Linked DNA regions of Homo sapiens: all the other regions are linked to region 1. Evidence: fine-mapped expression QTL. A gene starts in region 1. Each other region holds a variant in brackets. All regions are shown on one strand. Distances are from middle to middle. Region 1 holds the start of NECAB2 (N-terminal EF-hand calcium binding protein 2). Region 2 overlaps NECAB2 (N-terminal EF-hand calcium binding protein 2). Region 3 overlaps SLC38A8 (solute carrier family 38 member 8). Region 4 overlaps MBTPS1 (membrane bound transcription factor peptidase, site 1). Region 5 overlaps NECAB2 (N-terminal EF-hand calcium binding protein 2).

Region 1 (6,352 bases):
TTTTGCAAACTGGGGAAACAGACACAGCTCCCTGATGGCAGAGTCAGGATTCGAGCCCAGGCAGCGGGGCTCTGGAGGCTGCCCTCTGAACCCCACCCTACACCACCCTAGAGCATCCTACACCACCCTACACCACCTCTCCTGAGGGAGGCACCCTTGTTAGCTCCATTTTACAGAAGAGGAGACTGAGGCTTAGAGAGGTTGAATTACCTGGCCTAGTCCTACAGCTACAGCCTAGTCCAGCTCCAGGGCCTGACACTGCCCTGGACATCTCCCGTCCCACCCAGCCCCCCAACCCCTAACAGTGTCTGACTCTGGCGTCCTGCATCCTCCCCAACAGAGGTCTTCGCAACAGCCGGGCCACTGCCGGGGACATCGCCCACTACTACAGGGACTACGTGGTCAAGAAGGGTCTGGGGCATAACTTTGTGTCCGGTGCTGTAGTCACAGCCGTGGAGTGGGGGACCCCCGATCCCAGCAGCTGTGGGGCCCAGGACTCCAGCCCCCTCTTCCAGGTGAGCGGCTTCCTGACCAGGAACCAGGCCCAGCAGCCCTTCTCGCTGTGGGCCCGCAACGTGGTCCTCGCCACAGGCACGTTCGACAGCCCGGCCCGGCTGGGCATCCCCGGGGAGGCCCTGCCCTTCATCCACCATGAGCTGTCTGCCCTGGAGGCCGCCACAAGGGTGGGTGCGGTGACCCCGGCCTCAGACCCTGTCCTCATCATTGGCGCGGGGCTGTCAGCGGCCGACGCGGTCCTCTACGCCCGCCACTACAACATCCCGGTGATCCATGCCTTCCGCCGGGCCGTGGACGACCCTGGCCTGGTGTTCAACCAGCTGCCCAAGATGCTGTACCCCGAGTACCACAAGGTGCACCAGATGATGCGGGAGCAGTCCATCCTGTCGCCCAGCCCCTATGAGGGTTACCGCAGCCTCCCCAGGCACCAGCTGCTGTGCTTCAAGGAAGACTGCCAGGCCGTGTTCCAGGACCTCGAGGGTGTCGAGAAGGTGTTTGGGGTCTCCCTGGTGCTGGTCCTCATCGGCTCCCACCCCGACCTCTCCTTCCTGCCTGGGGCAGGGGCTGACTTTGCAGTGGATCCTGACCAGCCGCTGAGCGCCAAGAGGAACCCCATTGACGTGGACCCCTTCACCTACCAGAGCACCCGCCAGGAGGGCCTGTACGCCATGGGGCCGCTGGCCGGGGACAACTTCGTGAGGTTTGTGCAGGGGGGCGCCTTGGCTGTGGCCAGCTCCCTGCTAAGGAAGGAGACCAGGAAGCCACCCTAACACTCGGCCAGACCCGCTGGCTCCCAGGCCCTGAGAGGACAGAGATGACCACATCCCTGCTGGATGCAGGACCCGTCCAAAGATGCCCCGGGGAGGGGTGTCAGCCCACGTTGCTGGCCTTTGGGGTCAAGAGGAGTAGGGATCCCAGGCTGCCCTGGACTTAGACCAGTGTCTGAGGTGGTAACAGCGGCCGCAGGCCAGGGTTGGCCTAGACCTGGGATTTGTGGGGAAAGCTGCTGGTGTGACCAGCTGAGCACCCAGCCAGGAGACCTGCAGCCCTGCGCCTTCCAGAAGCAGGTCCCAAATAAAGCCAGTGCCCACCTGCTCTCATGCGTCTGAGGACTCTGTGCTCGGAGGGAGCTGCGTTCCCGGAACCCTGCACTGGGCTGGGGGGAAGGGAGGAAAGGGGATTGTGGGAGGAGTCCTGGGGCATGTGGTCCTGGATGAGGTCCATGGCTGGGGCCTTGGGGTACAAAGGATGGTGCCCCAAGTGTGGGGGCAGTTGAGCGGGCAGCTGTACTAGAGTCTGGGGGTGGGAGTGGCGGGTGTGTGCAGGCAGTGATGTCCAGGAGGGCGCTGCAGCCCCGCCCCCTCCGCAGCCTGTCCCAGGCCTCCCTCCTCTCTGTTCTGCCATGCGGCCTCCTTTCAGTCCCTCCTGCTGGCCAGGTCTCTGCCTGCCCCAAGGCCTTTGCACAGAGAGTCCCCAGCCCAGGACAGTTTCCCGCCTTTCTTTAACTCCTTTTCCTTGGGATGTCTCAGCATAAGAATCACTTCCTCTAGGAAGCCTCTTCTGACACAAACCCCTCCACTGCCGTCACAGCAAATACTCCTTTCATGGTCTAAGGTGCTACCTTTTCATAGCAGTGCAGTTTTTTTTTCTTTTTTTTGAGACAGAGTCTCATTTTGTCACCCAGGCTGGAGTGCTGTGGCGCTTGGTTCACTACAACCTCTGCTTCTGGGTTGAAATGATTCTCCTGTCTCAGCCTCCCAAGTAGCTGGGATTACAGGTGACTGCCACCTCGCCCAGCTAGTTATTGTATTTTTAATAGAGACGGGGTTTCACCATGTTGGCCAGGCTGGTCTTGAACTCCTGACCTCAAGTGATCCGCCCTCTTTGGCTCCCCAAAGTGTTGGTATCACAGGCATGAGCCACCACACCCTTCCAGCAGTTCAGTTTTAATTGTTCATTTGTTTGTGGAATCATTTCAGTGTTTGGCTCTGCCCACTTGGATGTAAGCTCCAGGAGCTCTGGGAGACCAAGTACACCATCTGTTTTGCCCATTGCTGGAACTCCGTGGTTGGGCACCTGCCTGGCACCTAGTGGGTTCTCCTTAATTCATCTTTTAAATGGATGGGTGGATGGATGGATGGGAGGATGGGTGGGTGGGTGGACAGATGGATAGATGAGAGGATGGTTGGATGGATGGGAGGATGGTGGGTGGGTGGATGGATGGATGGATGGATGGGAGGGAGGGGGGTGGGTGGGTGGGTGGATGGATGGGAGGGAGGATGGATGGATGGATGGGAGGGAGGGAGGATAGATGGATGGATGGAAGGATGGTGGGTGGATGGATGGGAGGGTGTGTAGGTGGGTGGATGGATGGATGGATGAGAGGGTAGGGGGGTGGATAGATGGATAGATGGGAGGGTGGGTGGGTGGATGGACAGACAGATGGGCGGGCGGGCAGATGGATGGACGGATGGATGGATGGATGGATGGATGGATGGATGGATGGATGGGAGGGTGGATGGATGGATGGATGGAGGGTGGATGGATGGATGCCAGGGAGGGAGGATGAGTGGGTGGGTGAATGGATGGATGGATGGGAGGATGCTGGGTGGGTGGATGGATGGATGGATGAATGGTTGGGAGGGTGGGTGGATGGATGGACGGACAGTCGGCCGGCCGGATGGATGGATGGGAGGATGGGTGGATGGATGTATAGATGGATTGATGGACGGGTAGGCAGGTGGATGGATGGATGGATGGATGGACGGACAGGTGGGTGGGTGGATAGATGGATGGGTGGATGGAGTATGAAGGAAAGATGTTCTGGGGTGAAGACTGGTTCTGGGCGTTTTGTAACCAAGGGGGCGGCCTGAGGGGGCGTGCACGCCCGCGGGAGTTAAGGATGGGCGCCCGCGGGCGTGACGGGGCCGCGGGGCGTGGGCGCCGCTCCCCGGGGCTGGAGCCGGCAGAGGGCGCTCCGGGCTCGCTGGACACCCGCGCTTCGGCCTCTGCTGCGCGCCGCGAGTGGGAGGGGGGACTTTAGAAGCGGGGAGAGCAGGAGACTTTTGGGGAGCAGGCCCCAGGGGCGCCGCCCCGCCCCCAGGCCCCACATACCCCTCCCCTCCGGGTAGCCCCCTCTGTGGCTGCGCCCGCGCCCCTCGCCCCGGCGGGCAGTCCTCAGGCCCCGCGCCCGGCCGGCGGGGGTGGGGGCGGCGGGGAGCGGGCACGTGGCTCGGGGTCCGGCCGGCCCGCCCCCCGGCGCCGGCCAGTCCCCGCGGTGTCCGCGGCCGCGGGGGCAGCGGGAGAGAGGGCGGGGCGGCGCGGGCAGCGCGGGGAGGGGGTCGCGCGGGGGCGGGCCGCAGCTGGGCGGGGGTCGGCGGGCTTCCGGGCGGCGGCGGCGGGCGCGGCGCGATGTGCGAGCGGGCGGCGCGCCTGTGCAGGGCCGGCGCGCACAGGCTGCTCCGGGAGCCGCCGCAGCAGGGCCGGGCGCTGGGCGGGCTGCTGCGCTGGGTGGGCGCCAGGATGGGCGAGCCCCGGGAGTCGCTGGCCCCCGCCGCCCCCGCGGACCCCGGCCCAGCCTCGCCGCGCGGGGGCACCGCCGTCATCCTGGACGTGAGTACGCGCCGGCCGGGACCCCCGCCGTGGCCTCCGCTGGGACCCGGAGCCCCCTCCGCCCCTCGGGCGGACCCCGACGCCGCGACCCGCGAGGCCCTCCCTACCCGGGCAGGAGACCCCCGGCCCCTCCGCGTGCCGGAGCGGGAGCCCCCAGCCCCGCCACGTCCAGGCCGGTCTCCAGCCCAGTCCTCTCCCTGGACCGGGAGACCCCCCTCCTCCGCCCCTCCACCGGCGCTTCTCGGAGTCCCTGCCTGCCCACAGTGGGGAGCCGTGAGCCCCCGGACCCGGCCACTGTCCCCCTAGTTTTGTCCAAGCCAAACCCCCACCCTTTACCCCGCGGGACCGGAGCCCCTCGCCGCGTCCAGCCGCCTCCTCCTCTCCATCCCGGATCCTGTCCGGAGCGATACTTTTCTGAGACCCCTAACAACCCCTACCTCTAGCCCACCTCTCTTCGCCCTAGACCCTGAGCCCCCGTTCATCTCACGCTCAAAGACCCTTTGCCCCAGCTACTGCCACTTTAAAAGTGAAGCCCCCTCCCCACCTTCTGTCTTCTCGTCTCCTTTCCATTGAGCCAGAGCCATCGCCCATCAGCCCTGAGCTGGTACCCCTCTGGTCTTCCCCACCCCGCCCCCTTCCATTCCAAGTCCTCTGTTCCCTTCCCCACACCCCTCTACCCTACAGAGAGCTGGGTCCTCTTCATGGACCAGACTCACCCCTCACCCCTCCTAACTCCCCTGGGACCCAAATCACCCATCTCTGGGAAGCCCACCTCACCCTCCCACCCGCCCCACCCGGGAGGGAGGAATCTTCAGGGGGCGGCTCGGAGGAGGAGGACTTCTCCCAGCAGAGAGTGCTAGGAGGAGGTGGAGGAGGCTTCTGGGGATGTTGACTGCGTGTTTCAGCGAGGGTCCTGCTGGGGTGGGGCTGGGGGCTGCCTCTGCCTGTGTGGTGGATTTCTGGGAGAGTGGTGGGTGTGTGTGAATGTGCACACGCGTGTATCGCGGATCCCTGTGAGTCGGGGGATTCCCTCCCTTCCTCTCTCCTCTTCCCTGCTCCTGGAACCCTTGGCCGGGGTCTGGGCTGGGAGGGCCGGCCAGAGCAGGGGGAGCTCTAGAGTGCCACACTCGCAGGCACACATTCACACACTCACGCACTCGCTTACGCACGCACACACAGCCAGAGACACACCCATGCAGCCAAACCATCCCCTCCTCAGGACCCCCGCAGAGCTCCCACTGAAAGTCCTGGGCAGAGCCCTGCAGCCCCAAGCTGCCCTGCATGGAAGCCCTGCCCAGTCAGGGTGGGGGCTCTGAGGTTCCATCTCCTCACCTGCCAAAAGGAGTGATGAGCGGGGGGTGGGGCGGGAGGTGCTCATGCAGACTCCTGGAGCTGGCTGACATTACCAGGTGTCAGCCCTGCCATGTCACTCATGTGTTCAGCATTCCTGCCCAGAGCCGGCACCTACCTGGTGCCTGGCCTCAAGGGGGATCTGGGACACCCAGATAGGGACCCCAGTTTTGAGGAGCCTTGCCCAGTCAGGAACGGGGCTGCGGGGTGCCCAGGCTGGATCTTTGAGGAGGGCTTGGGGATCTGAGGTTCAGCCAGGAGGAGGGGTGATGTTTGAGAGGCCCTCCCATAGCTGTGCTTCAGTCTCACCGCCCAGGTGCCTAGAAATGACCAAGGGTGCCCCCTTTCTCGTTGCCTGGAGGGATGGGGGGCGAGGGCATCTGTCCTTTACCCCAAGGCGAGGACAGAGGGTGGAAGGGTCAGAGTGAGTATTACCTCCTCCTCCTCCATGGCTGACCTGGCCCCAGCAGCCCTCCCTGGTGTCGGGAAATGTGTACATGTTGCTGCCTCTCCCTGGGTCTCAGTACCCTCCTTGTTAAAACAAGCCACTGAGATTGGGGTGGGGGCCACCGCAGAAGCTGGGATCCTTCTCAGGCTTTAAAGTGCTGGTGGGCAGGGCGCCGTGGCTCACGCCTGTAATCCCAGCACTTTGGGAGGCCGAGGCGGGTGGATCACCTGAGGTCAGGGGTTCGAGACCAGCTTGACCAACAAGGTGAAACCTCGTCTCTACTAAAAAATACAAAAATTAGCCAGTTGTGATGGCGGGCGTCTGTAGTCCCAGCTACTCGGAAGGCTGATACAGGAGAATTGCTTGAACCCGGGAGGCAGAAGTTGCAGTGAGCCAAGATCGCGCCACTGCACTCCAGCCTGGGTG
Region 2 (6,352 bases), 27 kb after region 1:
GGGATGAAAGGTGTGAGCCACCACAGCTAGCCTATTTTCTCTTTCTCTCTCTCTCTTTCTTTCTCTCTTTCTCTCATTCGTTCTTTTTTCTTTTTCTATTTCCTTTTCTTTTCTTTTCTTTTTTTTTTTTTTTTGAGATCGAGTCTTGCTCTGTCACCCAGGCTGGAGTGCAGTGGCGAGATCTCAGCTCACTGCAACGTCCGCCTCCCAGGTTCAAGCGATTCTCCTGCCTCAGCCTCCCTAGTAGCTGGGATTACAGATGCCCACCAGCACACCCAGCTAATTTTTGTATTTTTAGTAGAGATGGGGTTTCACCATGTTGGCCAGGCTGGTCTTTAGGGTGATCCACCCGCCTCAGCCTCCAGGTGCTGGGATTGCAGGCTTGAGCCATGGAGCCCGGCCTTATTTTATTTATTGACACAGAATCTTGCTGTGTCCCCCAGGCTGGAGTACAGTGGCACCATTGTGGCTCACTGCAATCTCCAACTCAGGTTCAAGCAATTCTCCCACCTCAGCCTCCCAAGGAGCTGGGACTACAGGCATGTAGTCCCACCCACACCCAGCTATTTTTTTTTTTTTTTTTTTTGTAGAGACGGGGTCTCGCCATGTTGGCCAGGCTGTTCTCAAACTCCTGGTCTCAGCAATCCTGCTGTCTCAGTCTTCCAAAGGGCTGGGATTACAGGCAGGAGCCACCACACCCCAGCCCACTTTTGAAAATTAGAAAGCAGTTTAGGAAATGGCATATGGTTATAACTGCACTCTCGGCATCACATGCCGTAAGTGAAGTAACTGTAAAAATAAGCACCTGTCATTGTTTACGATCCAGCTTGAATCCTGAGGCTTGCCACCTCTCTGTTAAAAAGAGAGACTGGGGGGAAATCAGAGAGGTGTTGAAGACAGTAGTAGCAAGTTGAGAGTTTCTCAGGAGGACTGAAAGAGACGTGAAAGAGGAGTGTTTCTTTCTGGTCTTGTGTTAGGCCTTGTTTGTGTGCTTGGAACCATGGGAATGCATCTGGGGTCCCATCCTAGGTGGTGGCTGCTGTGTTAGGGGTGTGACCTGGTATTTAGAGAGGAGCGACATTCTCGTGGCTCAGCAGTCCCATCTCCCGGGGAACACGAGCACCCGTCCCCCCGCCCACCTCCATTTGCTGTTTCAAATTGAGAAAAACCCTTCTTTGCTCAGTTCTTCCCAGAACAGCTGATGTGCTTGACACAGAAGAAAAAGAGAAAATGCAAACAGATGAGGGAAACAGCCAGGTGTCGGCACCCAAGCTCGATTGAGCCCTTAATTTTCCAGGCAGAGAGGTACCTCAGGACCAGGATATTGGTTTGCTGGGGGACTGGGGTTTGATCGTGTGTTTCTTCGTAGTTGAAGAGCTGGTCCTGATCAGACATGATTGTGAAGGTAACTCTGAGACACTGTTTCCCAAATGAGTTTGATCTGAGCATTTGCGCTGAATCACCTGGGAAAATTAAAATACACATTCCTGGGCTCCTGGCCATACTCACTGGCTAGAATCCCTGGACTGGAGCCCAGAACTCTGCACATGTGGTCAGTCTTGTGATTCTTGGGTGCCCCAGAATTAGCAGCCATCGCTGTGAAAAAAGCTGACACTTAGATTTCCTGGGTTTTCCTGTTACTATCTTGATGAAAAACTTGCTGTTTTTCTCCTGCCGCAGAACAGATAGTATGGCTGCGCAGTTTTCAGGGCAGACTTCCCACACTGGGTCAGCTCCATCACGCGTCAGCAGTTACACCCACCTGCCCCCATGGTGGGGACCTTACTTGGGGATGTTGTCAGACGGGGCAGCTTGTCGTGATACCTCTGTTCCACACATGCCCCTCCCTCGAACTTCCCCAAATCTCAGCTAGTTTGGCTCTAGGCTGTGGGTCCCTGAGGACTATCCTGTTTCCCAGCCCCAGGACAGTCTCCCAGGATGTCACCTCTAGCACAGGCTACTGGCTCAGACCCCACCACCCGGGAGCCCTGAGCAACCCGTCATGGTCTGAGGGATACATTTAATTTCCTGCTGGTTTATAGAGAAGCCATGATTGACACCATAAAGACTCTGCCAGCCTCTCCCCTCCCAAGGCGGGAGTCGAGTTTGCTCCCTCCGCAAGGGGGAGAGCCTGGCGGAGTGTTCAAGGTTCACAAGAGACAAATTCCAGAATGCACCAAGACCGCGATGCACAGAGACCAAGCGGGTGTTGGGGCCGTGCACAGGGCACTCTGTGTGTCTTCTGGGGGAGTGTCTGTGTTTCTGTATGTCTGCCAGGAGCTTTTCAGCATCCTTTTGCATGGGAGGATTTGGTCATTCATTGAGCATTTTTGAGTCCCTACTATGTGCTGGACACAGTGCAAGGTGAGCTGTGTGTGTGTGTGTGTGTGTGTGTGTGTGTGTGTGTGTGTGTGTGTGTCTGCCTCTGCCTGTGGCTAGCTGTGCCTGTCAGGGCACGCAGGGGTGTGTATGCACATGAGTATGCACAGGAGAGGGGTGTCCAGGGCCGGGAGATGGGGCCAGGCCCAGGTCAGGATCACAGTTTCTGTCCTGTTACATCCCGACTGTCAGTGTCTCTTTAGGTCTCGCTTTTATGTGTATGTGTTGGAGGGGGGTCTTGAAACCAGGTCCCCCACCCCAGAGGGCACCAAACATTAAATGGGCCTATCATGAGGGAGGGAGGGGGACTTGGTCACTCCACAGCTTGGGCTCTACACGTGCCCGAAAGCTTCGAGCTGTTAGAGTGGGGGTGGGTCCCTGGCTCAGCCTCACTCTGGAACTGAATCTCTTGGGGAAAAGGCCTAGGCCGTGGGGTCCTAGAATGGAGCTGAATTCGAATCCCAGCTCTGCCCAGCTAGCTGCGTGGCCCTGGCTGAGTCACCTGCTTTAAGAACCTCATTTCCTCCTCTGTCAAAACAAAGGCCATGATGCAAGTTCTGTGCATGTGTGAGTCCACTGTCTTGCGTAATAAATGCCTGTGGAAGATGCTGGAAGTGGTAAGGGCCCTGAAGCCACCGCCATGGTCTGTGTGTGTTCCCATCCAAACTGCAGACAGAACCACATCAAACCCAGCCACAGCGCGGCACAGACCTGGTGTGGAAGCCCCACTCCCGCCTCTGCCCCCAACCACAAGCTCATGGCTATGGAACAAGGCAAGACCCTTCCATCTGGTGAGAGAAAGCGGGGGCCCTGGTGGGGGTACCAGCTGGGGGTCCCGAGGAGTTCTGAGAGTCCTCTGACAGGGACTG[G/C]GGAGATGAGCAAGTTTGATGCCCCTGGAGGGGCTGGATGTTTCCAGCTTCCCCCCGAAGCCCTCGTCCTGCCCACCACTGAAGTCTGTGTGTCTCTTTCTCTACCGCAGCCACGGAGGATGCAAAGGAAGAGGGTCTGGAAGCCCAGATCAGCCGCTTGGCAGAGCTGATTGGGAGGCTGGAGAGCAAAGTAAGCCCTGGCCTGACCACGGCGTCTACTCCTTCCAACCCCTGAGGGAGTGCAGAGTTAAGCCTGGAGTTCAGGACAAAAGTCTGGGCTGCAGAGGGGCCAGGGAACCATGAAAAAGACATCCCCCAGGTGGGGCGTGGAGCTGCCGAGGACGAAGCTAAGGATCAAACCCCGGGGGATGCTCGTGTTGTTCAGGCCCAAGGAGGGGCGCCTGGGAAGAGAGAGTGTTGGGGGGTCAGGCGGGCCTGCAGGCAGCAGGAGCAGCTCCAGGAGCAGAGGGTGGTCAGCAGGGTCCCGTGTTGCAAGGCCCTAGCTTCAAGGAGACTTTGCTCTGAAGTGGCTGGAGCAGATATTGGCCGAAAGGCAGCACCAGGATGAAAGAGAGACGTGATGATTCGAGAGAGTTTCAAAACAAGGAAGGAAGTGACCAGCAGTAGCAAATGTATTAAGTGTGATATGGGACGTCCACAGGTGATAGAAAATGGCACAGCCCTTACAGAAAACATTTTCAGATAATGTTTCGTGACTCGGGATAGAGTGCTCACAATATGACCATTTGGTGGAAAGAAAAGTTTGTCTTAGGGCCTACAGACAGATGGGCTCAGGTATCAGTCAGAATTCTGGTTGTGCCACTTCATAGCTGTGTGACCCTGGGCCAGGGACTTGTCCTCTCTGAGGCTTAGATTCCTCCTCTGATAATCAAGAAAATAACCTGGAGCATGGGACCCCTCCCTCATAGGGGTGTCGTTAGGATGAACCAAAATGATGTCTCCGGTTTAGCACAGGGCCCGGTGCTGTAGCTTGCATTTAATATTAGCAATGTTAGCAATTATTATGAGGCATTCTGTTACCCAAACCTATCCACATGCACACAGCACACCCGTATACCCACATAAGCCAAGGTAACTGAGCTCTCAGAACCCTGGGATTGAGGTGGTTTTATGTTTCTCCTACTTTTGTGTATTTTTTTTACACCCTTTGTAAAGGGTATTGCTACTTTTAGTTTGGGGGTTCTCAGGCATTCATGGGGGCAGGAACAAGGGGCTCCCCGCATGGAGGGAGACAGAGGCTGACGTGGAATGAAGTCCGAGGGAGGAAGCTCAAACTTCCCCTCCTGCAGGGATGAGGCTGAGGTGGAGTTACCCCCTTCCTGAAGCCAGCTGCGGGAGCGGCTCGGAGGGGACCCCGTGGCCCGGTTGTCATAACAACTCAGCGGGCGCCTCGGGAGGGAGACTCTGAAGCTTATTTTTAGAGCACCGTCGCCCTAACAACCAGGCTGGCTGGTAACCACGGAGTACCTGGGCGTCCTGGAGACGGGGTGGGACCAGGTCCTCCTCCCCAGCCTCTAACTGGCCCGGGCGGTCAGCAGGGGCCAATCCGGGCCTGGCTTCAGGCCCCGCCCTTCACCGGCCAACCGGAGCTGCCTCTGGGCTGGAAGGATGGAGGCTCTAGGGGCCCCTGGCTGGGAGAAGAATGGGGCAGATACAGGGGCCACAGTGCCTCTCCTCATCCTCCTATGGCTTTTCCAGCCCCAGGACCCCTCACGTATGCTTGTAAAACCATGGAAACAGACTTGTTCCTGCCAGGCACACCTTCACCACTTACCAAGGCGTGTTCATGCTGTGTGCCCCCAGAAGGCAGTACCCTTGCCAGGATCAGCTACTACAGAGCCCAGTGCAAAATGAGCGTGCAAGGTCCCTTGCTCAAACATTTAGAACGTCACGGTGGTGACTACACAGACTCATCCACCTGCTGCTGTTTTCCTTATTAGCTGGCGTGCTTTACCTGTGGCTGCCCTGTGTGACTCCCGTAGATGGTCTGTCCTCATGGAGGATGGACAGAGATAGCCACAGAGGTGGTTAGTGGGGTGCCCAAGCTGAAGGAAGCAGCAGCATGAGCCTGTGCGTCAGGTAGACACACTGGGTTCAGACCCACGCTCTGACACTTACATGGCTTTCGTGCCTTCAGAGCCGGGGTTCTCTGCCGTGACATAGTGACTGTTGATCTTCTGTGGGGGCTCAGCCCTGTGTGGGCACCAGTCGTGGGCGAACAGAGCAGATGTGGTTCCTGGAGACCGAAACTTACAGTGGGGCAGCACCTTCCCTGGGGAGTCTGGAAGATTGTGTATTTGTAAACCATCTAGCTTAGAGTCTGGGGAAGACCAGAGAGAACAGTTCACCCCATTAGATCCCTGAGGTGCTGGGGGTTATGATTTGGGGTGAATTATAAGTTACAGGGAATCTAAGGGCTGTTGCTCATCATAGTGGCAAACCCCAGCATCTTGGACTCAGGCCTCTGGAGTCCCCCTTGCTGCCTCTCCCAAGCCATCCTCACCCCAGCAACATGTTCTAGGCCCCCTGTAGGCCAGAGGGAGTCTCTGCCACTTCCTAGCGTTGGTCTCCCAGCCCTGTGCAACAGGGCCGGGTCCTTGGGAGCTCCCAACAGCCCCAGGGATCCCAGAGCTCCTGGCTCCCCGGGGCGGAGTGGGGCTCTGGGTCTAGCATCACTGTGTGCTGGATTGTTTCAGGCACTGTGGTTCGACCTGCAGCAGCGCCTGTCAGATGAAGATGGCACCAACATGGTGAGGCCCCTTCCCACCTCTCTTCTGGGACCACATCCCTACCCATGCCAGGACTGCCAAGATCCAAGTGGCTCAATGCCCCTGACCCCGCTCTCCCTGCTTGGGACCACCAGGAGGGGAGATGTCGCCCAGCGCTTGGCACCCAGACCCTGCCCTGGCACAGGAGCCACCCCACCAACTCCGGGGGTATTTCTTGAGGCTCCCTGGACCTTTTTTTTTTTTTTTTTTTTTTTTTTGAGATGGAGTCTTGCTGTATCTCCCAGGCTGGAGTGCAGTGGTGGGATGTCGGCTTACTGCAACCTCTGCCTCCTGGGTTCAAGCAATTCTCCTGCC
Region 3 (6,352 bases), 62 kb after region 1:
GGGGTTACAGGCATGAGCCACCGTGCCCAGCCTCTACTGGTTTTATAAGGGGAAGCAGAGCAGGCCTGCTGAGGGCAGGCAGTACCCAGGAGGTGGTGGCAGTGGGCAGTTGCTCGGTGATGGAAGGAGACAGGAAGACGACACAGTGGCCAAAAAGTGGACCCCACCCAGATGCCCATCAAAGGACAGGGGATAAAGCGCAGCTTATCCACACAATGGAATATTATTTGACCACAGATAGGGTGGCTACAACATGGATGAATCCCACCAACACGGCGGGGGAGGGAAGCCTGTCTTAAAAGGCCACAATAGGATTCCATTCCTAGGAGGTGGCCATCGTAGGCAAATCCAGACAGACAAGAAGTGCAAGAGCTGCGGGCAGAGGTGGAGAATGGAGAGTGACTGACGGCGATGGGTTTCTTCGAGGGGCAACAGAAAGGTTCTCAATTGACTGTGGTGATGGTTGCACAGCTCTGACTGTACTAAAATCCATTGCACTGCACACTTCAGAAGGGTGAATGGCACGGTATATGCATCCTATCTCAATAAAGATATTTTTTAAAACCACAAAAACCAGCCAGGCACAGTGGCTCACGCCTGTAATCCCAGCACTTTGGGAGGCTGAGGTGGGCAGATCAAAAGGTTAAGAGATCGAGACCAGCCTGGCCAACGTGTTGAAACCTCGTCTCTACTAAAAATACAAAAATTAGCTGGACGTGGTGACAGGCGCCTGTAATCCCAGCTACTCAAGAGGCTGAGGCAGGAGAATCGCTTGAACCCAGGAGGCGGAGGCTGCAGTGAGCCAAGATCACACCACTGCACTCCAGCCTGGGCGACAGAGCAAGTCTGCCACAAAAGCAAAATTAAAACAAACAAACAAACAAACAAACAAACACACACTAGAAGTCCTGGTGTAGCCGCATTGGCTGGGAGTGGACACAACCCCTCTGCTCCTGAGGCCCCTCTCACTGACTGGACAGGCCTGGGGCGGGGGTGCCCCATTGCCAAATGTGTTTGGGCGGGGACGCTGTGTTTGAGTCAGGTCAGAGTTCCTGATGACAGTATGTGACCGTCCCTTTCCTGCAGCCCTCTCCAGCCTTACCCCCTTTTCCCAGCACCTTCAGTTACATTTATTCTCCCCCGCTTCAGATCCTGGCAGCCCCCACCTCTAGCCTGAGCCCCTACTCCCACTCCTTCAGTTCCTATCCTTCCCAGCTCTTCATCTCGGCATCCCGTGTCCCTGGAAACGCAGCCCAGGCCTCGTTGCTAGGAGAATCCGGTGAGGGCTGGAGGCAAAGGTGAGGGGCACCCCTTGCAAGCATCGGGGAGGCGGCCCCGGCGTAGGTCTGCTGCACCATATGGCGCTTGGGCACAGAGAGAGGTTCTTAAACTCAGTCCAGACAAACAGTTGACAGCAAAATCAGCTCTTCAGATCTTTCAAAATATTGGGCGTGCAGGAAGCAATGTGAGAAATCCACAGAAGTGGCTTGCTGAGGCCCTGAAGCAGCACGCCGACTGATTACGAGGAAGAGAAATGGAAATGTTTCAAGATTTTTTTTTTTTTTTTCCTAAAAAGGGTTCTCAAAGAAAAGGCAAGATGAAGAACAGAAGCAGAGCTCACTGATGGTCAAGGGAAGAGACGAGCTCAATGGCTACAAAGCTGAGATCCGGTGGTAAACCCTGGACACATCTCCCTGTGGACTTGATTTTACTTTGGAATGGTTTTGTTGGTGCTGGTGGTAGGCAGTGGATAGGTGGTTGTTTTTAGGACATCGAGGCAAATCTTCCCGAAAATAAGCAGCGTGGCCAGGCACGGTGGCTCACGCCTATAATCCTAGCACTGTGGGAGGCCGAGGAGGGCAGATCGCTTGACGTCAGGAGTTCAAGACCAGCCTGGCCAACATAGTGAAACTCCCTCTGTACTAAAAATACCAAAAAAAATTAGCCAGGCATGGTGGTGCACGCCTGTAGTCCCAGCTACTCAGGAGGCTTGAACCCAGGAGGTGCAGTGCAGTGAGCTGAGATCCACTACACTCCAGCCTGGGCAATAAGAATGAGACTCCAACTCAAAAAAAGAAAAAAAAAAAAAGAAAGAAATGGAAGAGCAGTGTCTGCTTCCACCTGCTAGGAGGGCTGCGGGAACCCATGACAGCCCAGAAGCAGAGGACTGAGCCCAGGCCCGCCACCTCCCCTGCCCCCCCTGCCCCGCCACCTTCCCCCCAGCGCTGTGCCACAGAGCCCTCTGCAGGTCTCTCTCCAGCTGTGCCTGGGGCCCGCTCACATCGGTGACCCACCTATGCTATCCCACCTGTGCTGTCCTCTCTACCTGGGGTGCGCTTCCAGTCACCTGGCTGCTGCCCATACATCCTTCAAGATCCCTTTCAAACCCCACCACCTTGAGCGGACACCTCTGACTCTGCCCCTCTGCCAGGATTCTACACATATAGCCCCGTCCTCCCTCCCATGACATTCTATTAAAAATTCTGTATTTCTGCCCCTTTCCCCTCTCCAATCAGCTCCCTGTACACCTTCCAGCTCCTCTACCCTGTACCCCTCAGGAGGCAGGATCTTTCCTGCCCAAGGCCCTGGGCAGAGTCCACCTGGGTAAAACTGTCCTGCCAGAGTTAGGTGGGCAGCTTAGGCCTCCAGGCCTCAGGTCTGACTGCAGTCCTGTGGGGGTTCTGCAGAGGAAGGGACAGGTCCCGGGTCCCCACACTCTACGCGAAACCTAAAAAACATGGTGCTGCTTTTGGCCATCAGTGGGGGCTGGATTCCCAAGTTCAAGGCAATTCCCACTTCCCTGAGCCCAGACACCAACCCATCCTCATGGTCTGGAATGACAGCCTGGGAACCACAGGTGGGCGGCACAGAGCCCACTGTATCCTAGGAGAAGTCCTCAGACGCCTCCCTGACAGAGAAACCAAGGTTTCCCAAGGGAGCAGAGAGTCACCCACAGCCTCTGCAAACGCCACAGGCTGCAACACAGATGCTAAAATTACCTGAAACCCGAAGCAGATGGTGGGGAAGACACTGAACACAGAGGTCCAGGAGGCAGGGCTGTAAACAGACAAGAACAGGAGTTTATTAAAGAAGGGTCACACCCGGAACAACCTGCGGCTGCAATGGTGAATTTTAAAGGATGCTGGGAAAATGTAACAGAGCATGGCTGCAAGATGTATTTTTAATGACTGTGTCCGTGACCGGGCTTTTGGAAATGGAAAAGGATGCTGGCTAAATGCTGCACTTTCTAAATACGTCTTTGCTGACATTTGGTAACATGACATTTTACATGTGGGCAGAATTTGGGCAGGAAAACCGCA[G/A]TAGGAACTCCCAACTTCCCTCTTGAAGGCTGCTGGCTCCCAGTGCGGTTTGGTAATTGGCAGGGGCGGGGGCACCCAGAGCATCCACCCAGTGATCCCAAATAGCACAAGGATGGTTTGAGCTCTGTCCAAGCCACCTAAGAGGACAGAGGTCTGCGTGGGGAGAACCTCCAGGTCCAGCCTCTTGGGATCCCCGCCTGGTTCACAGCTTCCTTTGACAGGCTTTGCAGGTGTAATTACTGAAAGTAAGATGAAGTCATGGTGGATTAGGGTGAGCCTGAATCCAATGCCTGCTGCCCTTATTGGAAGGGAAAACAGACAGAGAGAACATGGTGTGAGGATGAAGGCCAAGACCCAGTGATCCGTCTATCAGCCAAGGAACACAGATCGCCGCGGCCCCCAGAAGCAGGAAGAGACAGGAAAGATCTGCCCCTGGAGTCTTCGGAGGGAGCATGGCCTGACCACACTTTGATCACTTGTCACAACAGCCCTCGGACACTCACATATCCTAACTCATCACCTCCTGTTTTTACCAGGGCCTCCTCATCCCCTCGACCTGCCTGTGCTAGAGTACCACCGGCTCAGTGTACAGATCTCAGCACTCACAGCCTTCAATGCCATGTCTGGGCCAACGTCAGCCACGTTTCTCCTGCCAGCCCGGACCTCTCTCTCTGAACTTCAGACACACAGACCTGCCCAGCTGCTTGACTTCCCTCTTAGATGTCTCCAGGTCGGCTCTACCTTGACTGTTCCAGCCTGAGCTGCTCCCAGGGACCCGCCCTGCTCAGTCCTCTCTAATCCAGGAAACAGCATCTCCATCCTTCCCACTGTTCAAGCTGAGAGCTCCAAGTTACCTTGACTTTCTTCTCTCTCTTACTCACCTTCCAACCCACCAGCAGCACTGACCACAGAATTCACAGGGCCAGGTGCAGGAGGAATATGCGGGGACCCTTGTTGGACAAGGATTAAGGATTTTAAGACAGTGACATCAGAAGGGTACACTGAGCATGGGGCCTGGGTGACTGTAGGGGTCGCACACCCACGAGCCAGCCCTGCCACTGGGAAATCCGATCTCAAGCATATCCAGTCTGACTATTCCTCATTGCCTCCTCTGAAGCCACCAGGTCTGGGACCCGGGATCTAGGCAGAGGCCTCCCACTTGGTCTCTGTTGCTGCCCCTGGCTCCCAAGGACCACAGAACAGAATAAAAAGGGTGAGCCTTTTTATTAATTTTTTTCTTTTTTGAGACAGAGTCTTGCTCTGTTGCCCAGGCTGGAGTGCAGTGGTATCATCTCGGCTCACTGCAACCTCTGCCACCCGGTTCAAGCAATTCTCCTGCCTCAGCCTCCTGAATAGCTGGGATTACAGATGCCCACCATCACACCTGGCTGAATTTTATATTTTTATGTAGAGACAGGGTTTCACCATGTTGGCAAGGTTGGTTTTGAACTCCTGACCTCAAGTGATCCACCTGCCTCAGCCTCCCAAAGTGCTGGGATCACAACTATGAGCCACCACACCCTACCTAGAGTGACCCTTTCTAAAAACAAATCCTGTCACATCCCTGCTGTACTCAAAACACTGCCAAGTCTCCCAACTCATCCAGAGCAAAACCAAACTCCTCGCCGTGGCTCTGAATCCCTGTACGACATCCCCGCCCATGCTCTCTGCCCTTGTTCCGGCTGGCTTGGCCACACCGGCCTCCTCACTGTTCCCCTGCCCCGGTACATGCAGCTGGATGGCTGCCAGATTCTGTACCTCCACACTGTGGGGACAAGTCTGCAATAACCTATGACCCCTAGGCCGCCGCAGCCTTTGGCGGTTCTGCGTCCCTTGGCCTGTCCCGGTCATCGCTAGCCACGGCCAGGTCCCTGCAGCAGAAGGAGAGTGGCCCTCCCTTGCCTTCACCGCATCAGAGACGGAAAGAACTGGAAGGAAGGAGCCCAGGCTCTGCAGTGAGCCACGAGAGGCTCCTCCTCCAAGACTCCCCTCACAGACTCCCCTGCCGTGCCTCCCCGCCGAGGCTGCCGGAAGCTGTTCCCTCAGACTTACCTCAGTGAAGGATGGGACTCACGCACGAGGCCCTGGGGCCAGAGGTAGTACTGCACGGTGATGACCAGGGCCAGGTAACAGGCAGCCAGAGTGCCTAGGATGCTAACACAGTGACCGTGTGAGGGGCTGCGCAGTGGGTGACATGTGCGGTTGATGCACGGGGACAGTAGTGGGATCTGAATCCCAGCTCCGCCCTTGACAATGAGGTGCTGGCCAAGCTGTCCACCTCTGCCTCACCATCCTCATCTGTACAGGGGGCATGTGGGGCAGGGCTGCTTTGGGGTCAAGGGGTCAGATGTAGAGTTTTGTTGTTGTTGTTTTGTTGTTGTTGTTGTTTTTTGAGACGGAGTCTCGCTCTGTTGCCCAGGCTGGAGTGCAGTGGCGCAATCTTGGCTCACTGCAAACTCTGCCTCCCGGGTTCAAGCAATTCTCCTGCCTCAGCCTCCCGAATAGCTGGGATTACAGGTGTCCGCCCCCACGCCTCGCTAATTTTTGTACTTTTAGTAGAGACAGGGTTTCACCGTGTTGGTCAGGCTGGTTTTGAACTGCTGACCTCGTGATCTGCCTGCCTTGGCCTCCCAAAGTGCTGGAATTACAGGTGTGACGCCCAGCCCAAATGTGTAGAATTCTTAATGGCACCCGGCGCCCTTCGGGATGGCAGCTGTAATAGTGTTTCCTTCCCACCAGCAAAAGCTAATCAGCCACTCAGCCTGATGCCTAAGGCAGGACGCCAGCAGGCTCGCTCACACTTGAGAGGGGACAAGCCGCCCCCTGGCTTGGTCTGAGTGGCACGAGAGCCTTGCAGGGCAGAGACCTGAGGGAGGCTCGGGTTTGCTGCCTGCTGTTTCTATACAATGTCTATTGTTCATACACAACAGGGAAAAGGCAGGCAGCAGAGGGAGATGGATACTGTTTCCAAGCTTTATTTCTTCCTAAGTATACAGACCCTTAGCCACAAAAAAACAACCTCTGTGTGTGTG
Region 4 (4,000 bases), 100 kb after region 1:
CAAAACTAGAGCCTCACAGATGTACTTTTGAAAATACTGGTGAGTTCTTTCCACAGACTCCAGCTAACTGAGGGATCACCATTCTCTTTCTCAAGAAATCTAGACTTCAGAGGTGTAGAGCTTCTGCTCTCACACCTAAGACCACGCCCTCAGGAAACAGAGCCTTACTGTCATGGTTGGCCAGGGTGAACTCCCCTTCATACAGGCCATCGCTGAACCCCATGTTCCACACAGACAGCAGCTCATTCAGAGCTGGGATGTTAGCTCCTCCGGTATCCGGCATCCACCACTGCCTGGGAAAGTGGTAACAGACACACAGGGAACAGGGAATGAAGACACTCCATACACAGTTATTTAGTCTCTGTGACAAAACTCAATTTCTCCTGCCACAATCCAGTCCTTCCACACTAAGGCTTCAACTGAAACCAACTGTCTGGGTTTGGGTAAAACTGCAAATTTAAGTGCTTCGGCTGATGTGTAGAATTAATTAAAGCAAAATTTATTTTATGAAATGAAAATCAGTACTTTACCGAAATGCACCAGAGATAACTGCTTAGCCTAGACCCAGCAAGGTTCAGTGAAGGAGAAGGAGATGAGAAAGAAGCATAGAAATGTTCAGTCACAGATTCTAAAGAAACCGATTCAAAACATAAAGGTGATTATGTTTATAATACATTGGGAGTCCTTGATCCCAATAAAGGGAAGGACATTATTCCCTTTGAGTAAATTAATTACTATAAATATAAGTAAATTAATTATTGTAAATATACAATATTTAAATATACAATAATTTACTCGAAATATTCTTTAAGAAACAGTTCCTTTGGTGCATTTAAATTTATATATACTCAGTAACAGAGAGTGGAAAAGAATTAAACAGAAGTTTAAACCTGAAGTATCTCATATCTAAGATTAACAAGGAAAGACAATGAACCCTCTATATTATTAACAGTACTCATACTCAATAAACATCTTACTCTATGAGCAACTTTCAAGAACCTCTCTACTGTATAAAGGACTATTTTCTTTTTTGTGTTTTATTTTTTCTCTTTGAGATAGGGTCTCTCTGACACCCAGGCTGGAGTACAGTGGCTTGATCTCAGCTCACTGCAGCCTTGGCCTCCCAGGTTCAACCGATCTGCCCAACTCAGCCTTCCAAAGTGCTGGGATTACAGGCGTGAGCAACCGCACTCAGTCGAAAGGGCTTTTTTTCTAATCAAGCTCTCTGAATGTGTCTGTGCCAACTGGAAAGACCACCAACAGGTCAAATCATCACTTAAGTATTTGCTGGGTAGAATTTGATTCCCCAAAAGTCTTATCCAAATACCAATGCGTATCAACAGTACCTTGTGTTTTCATCATAAAACTTCACTTTTCTCATAACAGAAGTGTTGTACCAGTCACTGAAGATGACGAGCGAGAGGCCGTTGTCCACGTCCCTCCGGAGCTTGGCGATCTCTTCAGGGAAGTACTCCTCCTCACTGTCCACCATCAGCAAAGTGCCTGATGAACAAAGAACCAAAGCTGGGAACTGTCACTTCTGAATGACAGGACACCACCACGGCAGAAACAGTGTCACCAGGTACATGTCTCAGGTTACTGACACCTAACAGTCTGGTTTGTGCCACCCTGTACCACTTTAAAAGGGACTAAAAAGTAGAGGACCAGGATCCAGCAATACACAGCGACTAACTGTGATCTGATTTCACTTGTGGTGCTCAGGATAAAGATTTTCATTCACTTGAGAAGGA[G/A]CAAAATATATAGCAGAGCTGCTTTTAACTTAAAGAAAAAAGAGTACGAATGTCCCTGTCTCCAATCAGCCTGTCTTGTATTTCAGCTGAATGTCACACCGCCACCACCTGTTTCAGAGCCTCGCCCCAGGCTCACCCAGCTGTGGGGCCCACGGCGCATACTCCCTTGGTAGCTATCACTGAAAACTGGGATTCACTCCTCAGACATTTAACAAACATCCAAAGTGGGCGGAAAGACCATCTGGCTAGCACAGCAGTGCCACTTACCATACTGACTGGCATCAAAACACGTGAAGGGGGCCCCGAGGACCTCTACAAAGTAGCCCATGCTTCTCAGATGCTGGTACATATCCCTGAAATTGGTGTGGATGTGATCACCATTCCTGAAAAACAATAGGCCACAGCATTAAAATGATCGATCTTTACTGGCAATAAAGGCATATCTGGCCACAGGGCCGGCTCTGCAAGAGCACCATGCCATGGCCCACAGAGAAGGCCTGGATGGCTGGCCCACTGGCACAGGCATCAGCTTAGGAGACCTGTGTGCTCTGGTCTGGACACACGGAAATGGCTGATAAGAAGAAACCATGTGCCTGGCAGGTGCATGAAAGAGACAAAATGACCAGAAGAAATGGCCAAAGACATGTTTAATGTGTCCTGGACCATCACTGTAGCAGTCGCGTTCAAGTAAATTGCTGGCAACCATCTGTGTCTGACAGAAGAGCTTAGCAAATAGCCGCGGGAGTGCAGGGACGCTGGAACAAGCCACGCAGGGCCACGGTGCTAAGACAGCGGCACAGCTAACTGATATCACTGCCACTGGTCAACTTTCCATCCCCGTCCCTCCCAAATGAGCTCACTTTCCTATGGGACACTGTATACACCCTCTAGGGGTCACCTCATTCTCACCTCCCAGCAGCACAGACTCCAGGTCCTCTCCTGCAGGCCAACGGGCTTGCCTTGGTCTATGAACTTCCCACCACTTCCTGTCTACCCGTCTCTGGTCTGAGCCCCTCCAATCTGGCTGCCAGAGACATCTTATTTTAAAAGGCAAGTCTGACTCTGTAACTATCCTGGTCACATCTTTCAATGCTTCCCCTTCCCCTACTTTCAGCATGGAGTTCAAACGTAGTCCAAACATAAAAGCAGAAATGAGCTTGGCTAATGCACCAAGAGAAAGTCAGCCCAGCTGCCCTGCAGGGAACAGGCACAGGGAGAGCGGCTATGGGGACTGCGGGGGAAGCAGTGCCAGCTTCTGAAGGGCTGCATGGGTCACACCAGGGGGCTTGGCCGGGTGAGGAAGTCAGAATAGGCAGTCACTGGAGAGCTTGAGGCAAACTGTGTTAGAATTTGTTTTAAGATTACCAAGGTTGCCAGAAGAGGAGTGGAATTTAGGGCAACAACAGCAACAGCAGTGGCACTCAGGAGCTGCTGATGTGGTCCAGGCAAGAGATGACAATGGCATGGACTAGGGTGGGAGCAGGGAGAAGGCCAGAGATGGAAGGATCCAGGATGCAGTTTGAGGGTAAGACTGACAGCTTTGCTGACTGGCGCAATGGGAGAAGGAAGGAAAAGAGAACTTCAAGCTTTTTACTGCATAATCATACTTGTGAAAGTTTCAAAAGAGAAGTCAGGCTGCCCTAAGTGCATGGCAAAAGCCTGAACATCTCAGCGTCATCAGAGTCCAGGCTCCACGAGAAGCTGAGCAACATCTTTCCAAGAGTTGCGGGAACAGTGGTGCCTCCTCCCACCACGGAGGCTGGGGAGGTGAAGTGCATCCTGTGAGGTGCTTACCAGTCTAAAGGGTCATTCTTCATCCTTAAATTATCCCTGGGGAAATAGCCAGGTGGATAGCGGAGGTTGTGGTACTGATCCCAGAGAACTCTCTTGCTTCGCGGGGGAGTAGGAATTATCTTCACCTTAATGGGGAGCTTTACTGTTGAAGTCTGTTCTGCACCATTTTTTGACTAAAAAAAAAGAAAAGAAACTTGAAACGCCCTCATTGTGCAGAAAGAAACTTTCAGGTTTGAAAACATCATTTCTATTTATCAACTTAACCTAAATAATTTGAACACAAGAATTTCCAATAACAAATGTCTGATGAAAGATTCATGTATCATAACTAAGTCCATTCAAACACTTAAAGAGTTTAACAGTTAAAATTTAAGGCATATTCTATCAATAAAAACTACTAGAGCCTCATAGGATTAACCCTACATTTCCTTTTAGAGAATGTATATTTTTGGTGC
Region 5 (5,610 bases), 34 kb after region 1:
AGAGGGGTCTTCTTGGGCCCCCTGTGCACTGAGGCTTGAGTGACAACAGCCTGACCTGTAGCACGAGGGGAGGAGTAGCCTGGGCAGGAGTGCGGCCGTTCCCGAGACTCGGCGTGGCCACGAGGGGCCATTCTTGAGTAAGTAGCCAGGATGGGGGGGCAGGACCCACTCCACTCCAGGAGGACAGACTGCACAGGAGCAGGGGCCAGACTTGATCTTTTTCCATTACGTGAATAAGTGGGAGGCTCCAGGGTGAAGTAGGGCCACCCCGATGCGCTGTGGAGAGGAGGCACGGTGGACGTAGAGGCTCTGGTTTGTCGAGTTGGAGACGGCAAGCCTGGAGAGCCAGGTGAGATTCTACTTCCCAGGCATGGTGCACCTAAAGCTGCACGGAGGTGTGTCCACCCCAAGATGGAATCCAGCCCGGCCCCTTCCTCTAGGCTGAGCACTGTAGCCCCTCCTCCCCAGCTTTTGGCCCCCGCTTTATGGTCACTTGGGGCTTCCTCATTGTAGTGCACTTGCAGAGAGGATTCTGGGGCGGCATAGACTATCAGCACCTTTAAAATGACGTGAGTGCGGGCCCCTGGGTCCCATAGAGCAATGGGGGACTTGCCTGCAGCCCCTTCCTCTGTGGCCCAGCACCCCCTCCCCTCAGCCTCCTTTGGTCAGGTCAGGTACAGTGCAGTGGGGGTGTTGCAAGGATTAAATGAGAGGACAAGTAGAAGGAAGAAGAGGGAAGATGCTTTGATTTTTAAAGGTTTTTTGATTTTTAAAGGTTTTTTGAGACCAAATCTTGCTTTATTGTCCAGGCAGGAGTGAGTGTGTAGTAGTGGAAGCTCAGCTCACTGCAACCTCTCACCAGAGGGTTTAAATGAGTCTCATGCCTCAGTGTCCTGCATCGCTGGGATTACAGGGATGTGCCACCAGGCCCAGCAAGTTTTATTTTTTTTTTTTTTAAAGAGACAGTGTTTTGCCATGTTGGCTAGGCTGGTCTTGAACTCCTGACCTCACGTAATCCACCTGCCTCGACCCCTCAAGACTTCCCAAAGTTCTGCGATTACAGGCGTGAACCATCACATCCAGCCACCTGGTTTTGTTTAAATAAATGTTCACACTTTAACATGACATTTCAGCTGGGCACAGTGGCTGAAGTTTGCAATCCTGGCACTTTGGGAAGCCAAGGTGAGAAGACAGCCTGAGCCCAGGAGTTAAAGACCAGCATGGGGAACATAGCAAGACCCCATCTCTATTGGGACAGTTTTTGAATTAGGCCGAGTGGTGCACTCCTCTAGTCCCCGCTACTTGGAAGGCTGAAGTGATTGTGCCACTGCACTCCAGCCTGGGCAACAGAGTGAGACCCTATCTCAAAAGAAAAACTACACTGCATTGATTCTATTTAATAAATAGCTGTTGGCCACTATAAGAAGCCAGGCCTTATTCCCTGTGCTGGGGTCACCCTGTCGAGTCTCGATGGAGGTCAAGACAGGAAGAAACATTGAAGGCAGCCGTTGTGTATAGTGGTGGGTCTCAGGCCACCCCAGGGGAACAGCACTGAGGTGGCCTTGGTTGAGCTCCAGCCTCCTCCCCCCGACCATCTCCTGTTGCAGCATCACTGCCGTGAGGCTCTCAGATGGCTTCACCTTTGTCATCTATGAGTTCTGGGAGACAGAGGAGGCGTGGAAGAGGTGAGATGCTGGGTCCCCACAGCAGGTGAGGGAGACAGAGGGAAGTGGGGGGGCTGTCTTCCTGGAGCCAGGCATCCTTGGAGGGGAGGGTAAGGCCGAGTCCAGTCAGCAGATTCCCGAGGCATCTACCCGCTGGCATGCTTGCGTCAGTAAACCCTGGTGGAGGCAGGAGCTCTTGGTGGGTAGTGAGAGCCCCCACCACACTCAGCTGGGCTTTCCTGCTTTCCCCAGGGTTGCTTCTGTGCCCCTAGAGCACCTTGTCCTCCTGGAACAGCCCTGGGGGCCGAGGCACTGCCTTCTTTACCACCCTGTAGAGTTGAGGGCCTAACCTAGAAGGTGACTCAGTCCCCATGTGATCAATTGTTCCAGCGACTAACCTCCCCTCCAGCTGAGTGCCCGGTACGAGGGACGGAGATGGGGTAGGGTGTCAGCAGCTCTGATGGGCCTTAGGCCTTTGTCCTCTGCTCAGCACACATCTGGGAGAGGGTGGAGACTATTGCTGATGCGCCAGACCCCACAGGCAGGAAGCGGGGCCTAGGGGTAGCCCATGCCCCCATCTCCTGCTTCCCTGGTAAACACTCACGGTTTGCTGACAAACTCAGGACCCCAGTGGGAACAGGGGCGGTCATGAGAAGTGAGAGTGTCCCCTCCCTGTCCGTACTTCAGTGACTCATAAAACGAGGGACTAAAAGCCTTCGCAGCTTCTGTGTTGTCATGGGTCCCAGGCAGAGGATGGCCCCACTCCTCCTGCTAGGGTAAAGGGGGAGGTAGAGGCTCTGTGCAATGAGTGGGGGGATCCCGCTGCCCATTTATAGCTCACAGGGAAAAAGAGAAGCTCACTGCCCACCCCAGAGTCAGCCTCCCTGGGCACCCCCTCACCTTCCCACAAAGGCTCTGAGTCCAAAGACCCCCCGTGCTTATTGATAAGCTCCCCATTTTGGGCTAGAGCTAGGATTAACAGGGGAGCCACACGCGGAGCTCCACTCCTGCCACCCCTGACTCACACATGTCCCTGCGTCACAGGCACCTGCAGAGCCCCCTGTGTAAGGCGTTCCGGCACGTCAAGGTGGACACACTGAGCCAGCCTGAGGCCCTCTCCAGGATCTTGGTGCCAGGTAGGGGGCAAAGGCCTGGAACTGCAGTGGCCACCTGACTGGAGAGAAGGGCAAGAGCCTAGAGGCTGCCCCATATCTCCCGGGGACTTGCCTGCTTGCTGTGGGCCCACTGTCAGCTCCTGCCACCAATGCCAGGCTCAGAGCCAGCCCTGAGGTGGCCCCACATACAGGTATGCCTGCCAGAGCTTGCACCAGAGCACCCCCTCCACGGCCCCCTACTTCCAGCCAGACTGAATTTCCCTTCCCAGGTGTGTGGTTTGCACCTGGGTGACCAGCAAGGACCTGTGTGTCACACAAGGACTCAAAGCCATCCCCCGACCTGTCATTCAAGACGACCACCACCAGCTACGAGGCTGCCCACATTCGCACTCCTTCCCTCTAACGTGTCTCTCTCCTTTTAGCTGCTTGGTGCACGGTGGGACGGGACTGACAGCCTCCCAGAGGCCCGTGGAGGAGCCCACCAGCCCCTTCTTCTTGTGAAGGAAATCCCGTTTTTTTCTAGACAGACACTTTGGTGCAGAAGCTTCTTTTCAATCCATCCTCCACAAGAAGGTGTTTCCCTGTTGTTAAGTGAAGGAGGCCGCCCCTGCCCCCACCTGAGAAGGCAGAGCAGTGTCTGTGCTGCCAGGTCCTGGTGAAGCCCAAGGTTGAAGGGGGCGGCTTCCTGGAGCCAGCACCCCTGCCTCCTGGTCCTGGCCTCTCCCCTACCCCTCACATGGCCACGCATGACCCACACTGACCACACCCTGCCCTCTTCGGTGACATTCTTCTACCTAGTAGGAGTCATGCCCCTGTAGTGCCCAACCTAGCCAGGTAGCCACCACTGT[G/A]CCCAGGCGCCAAATAAACCCTGGTTGGGAAGAGCTGTGTGCTCTGTGTCTGTTTCCTGGTTGACAACAGCAGGGGGCCAGGGACCCTTCAAGTGCTCCCAGCCTCAGTTTTCTGAACCATGAAATGGTGGTGGTCACTCTATGCGGTATTTGGGAACTAGGCTCATGCCTATTCAGGAGCTCAGCACCACACCTACCCTCAGGTCAGTAATTCAAAGGACTGGGCACAACTGTCAAAGTCACGGTCAAGGTAGGTAGATGACAGACAGACAGACAAAATCCAGCAAAGAAAGAGGCTCCCGGAGTGGGGGGCCAGGCACGGGGCTACCAGTAAAGGCCCATAGCACTGAACCCTCCCAGCTTCAATGCTGATAGAGCATCACCAATCAGGGATGCAGTCCTGAGTCTTACTGGGGTTCGGTGACGCATACACGCTGACACCTCATGGCTCAACACCCCACCATAAATCACATGGTTGGCCCAGACCACGCAGTGTGGCTCAACACAGACACTGTCACCAGGCAGGACGCTCCAGGGACGGGTGAATGCCTCCCGGCACGTCTGTGCATTAGCCATTCAACACAGCAGGAGACCCCGCCTATCAACTGGAAATCATGTCTTAAGTCTTATTCTGGAAGCTTTGTAACTTCTTCCTATTTCTCAGTCCGGGTTAGCAGGAAAGAAGTCACTCACAGCCCAGTGCAGTGGCTCAAGCTGTCATCCCAGCACTTTGGGAGGCCGAGGCTGGTGGAACACCTGAGGTCAAGAGTTTGAATCCATCCTGGCCAACATGGTGAAACCTCGTCTCTACTAAAAATATAAAAATTAGCTGGGTATGATGGTACACGCCTGTAATCCCAGCCACTTGGGAGGCTGAGGCAGGAGAATCGCTTCAACCCAGGAGGTGGAGATTGCAGTGAGCAGAGATCACACAACTGCACCCTGGGCAACAGAGTGAGACTGTCTCAAAAAAAAAATCACAAAAGTTCAAAGGACAAAGAGAATGGTGGGTCCCTCTCCTAAAACAGGGCAGAGCCAAGACCACAGGCCAGGGCACAGGTGGGAGCCCTGAGGGGAAGGGGCAGGACCCAGAATGGGCACCTTTCTACCTCAGGCACAGAGCCTGGAGGGCTGGCCAGTGCCACATGTGGTTATTAACACTCACCACCCAGCAAGGTCCCTGCCCACACTGTCCAGCCCCCTGTGCTTGCCGGGAGCTTTGAAACCCTGCTCCCAGGGCAGGTCCCTGCCCCTTGGGTACTGCCACCTCCTTGCGGGGTGTGATGCCTGCCGCTGCAAAACCAGCAAAACACGACATGAGTTTGTAGGAAAAGAAAAGGGGTTCAAGAACCATCTGTATGTCTCCAAGCTGAATGTCCCTATACCAGCCTCTCAGGGCCTGTTTTCTCACCTGTAATGTGGGGAAAAGACCCCTCCCTTGAAGGATCAGGGGCTTCACTGCCTGGCGCACGAGAATGCCACTTACAGGCTCCTGCTGCCCCACCCACAAGACTGGTACATTCCAACCACCTCAGCTATTCTAAGAACAACATTCTCAGGGGCTAAGGCTTTCTGGGGTACAACTGAGGAACCTCCTTTAGCCGGGCCTGTTCCCCTCCCACATGTCACATCTGCCCAGGCCTCCATGGGGGGTGATATCTCTGCTGATTGCAGCCCACGTGCACTGAAAGCCTTCAGGGGCCCCCTCAGAACCTGAGTGGCCGGGGATGGGCTCTGACAAGAACATGTTTCAACCCTAAAAGCTCTAAGAGCTCCCGCTTAATTCACACTTCAGAGCCTGGCACAGTCAAGCACTTGACAGGCCCATCTCCCTCCATGCTCCCCTATGCTGTCCTGCTCTTGGCAGGTGGGGAGATGGAGACAGAGAGGGCAAGCAACTCACCAGAGGTCACACAGCAAGTAAGTGGCTCAAGTCAGATCCAAACCCAGAGTTCTGTGCCTAACCCCTGCGCCACACAGCAT

Evidence for each region. PIP is the estimated chance that this variant, and not a neighbour inherited with it, causes the effect.
Region 2: its variant is fine-mapped to the expression of NECAB2 in whole blood (TOPMed, PIP above 0.99). The same link has a PIP of 0.9 or more in neutrophils.
Region 3: its variant is fine-mapped to the expression of NECAB2 in whole blood (TOPMed, PIP above 0.99). The same link has a PIP of 0.9 or more in blood mononuclear cells and monocytes.
Region 4: its variant is fine-mapped to the expression of NECAB2 in whole blood (TOPMed, PIP above 0.99).
Region 5: its variant is fine-mapped to the expression of NECAB2 in whole blood (INTERVAL, PIP 0.92).

Annotation. Positions count from the first base shown.
Region 1 is chr16:83,964,722-83,971,073 of GRCh38, forward strand. NECAB2 (N-terminal EF-hand calcium binding protein 2) reads left to right here and starts at 3,523. Exons shown (of 13, transcript NM_019065.3): 1 at 3,523-4,128. The coding sequence starts at 3,928. It overlaps OSGIN1 (oxidative stress induced growth inhibitor 1), which reads left to right. Exons shown (of 6, transcript NM_182981.3): 6 at 341-1,611. The coding sequence ends at 1,286. RefSeq lists a silencer at 3,399-3,588.
Region 2 is chr16:83,991,251-83,997,602 of GRCh38, forward strand. NECAB2 (N-terminal EF-hand calcium binding protein 2) reads left to right here. Exons shown (of 13, transcript NM_019065.3): 7 at 3,052-3,170; 8 at 3,359-3,438; 9 at 5,966-6,019. Among named protein-coding and RNA genes, the nearest start is that of NECAB2, 26 kb to the left of the region's middle. RefSeq lists a silencer at 4,736-4,795. The variant G/C (reference allele first, on the strand shown) is at 3,249.
Region 3 is chr16:84,026,495-84,032,846 of GRCh38, forward strand. It overlaps SLC38A8 (solute carrier family 38 member 8), which reads right to left. Exons shown (of 11, transcript NM_001080442.3): 5 at 5,373-5,474; 6 at 3,000-3,057. Among named protein-coding and RNA genes, the nearest start is that of SLC38A8, 13 kb to the right of the region's middle. RefSeq lists an enhancer at 630-1,131. The variant G/A (reference allele first, on the strand shown) is at 3,321.
Region 4 is chr16:84,066,321-84,070,320 of GRCh38, forward strand. MBTPS1 (membrane bound transcription factor peptidase, site 1) reads right to left here. Exons shown (of 23, transcript NM_003791.4): 14 at 3,546-3,718; 15 at 2,019-2,134; 16 at 1,347-1,503; 17 at 169-293. Among named protein-coding and RNA genes, the nearest start is that of SLC38A8, 26 kb to the left of the region's middle. The variant G/A (reference allele first, on the strand shown) is at 1,752.
Region 5 is chr16:83,999,117-84,004,726 of GRCh38, forward strand. It overlaps NECAB2 (N-terminal EF-hand calcium binding protein 2), which reads left to right. Exons shown (of 13, transcript NM_019065.3): 11 at 1,608-1,685; 12 at 2,709-2,800; 13 at 3,202-3,660. The coding sequence ends at 3,230. Among named protein-coding and RNA genes, the nearest start is that of NECAB2, 34 kb to the left of the region's middle. RefSeq lists an enhancer at 3,208-3,990. The variant G/A (reference allele first, on the strand shown) is at 3,628.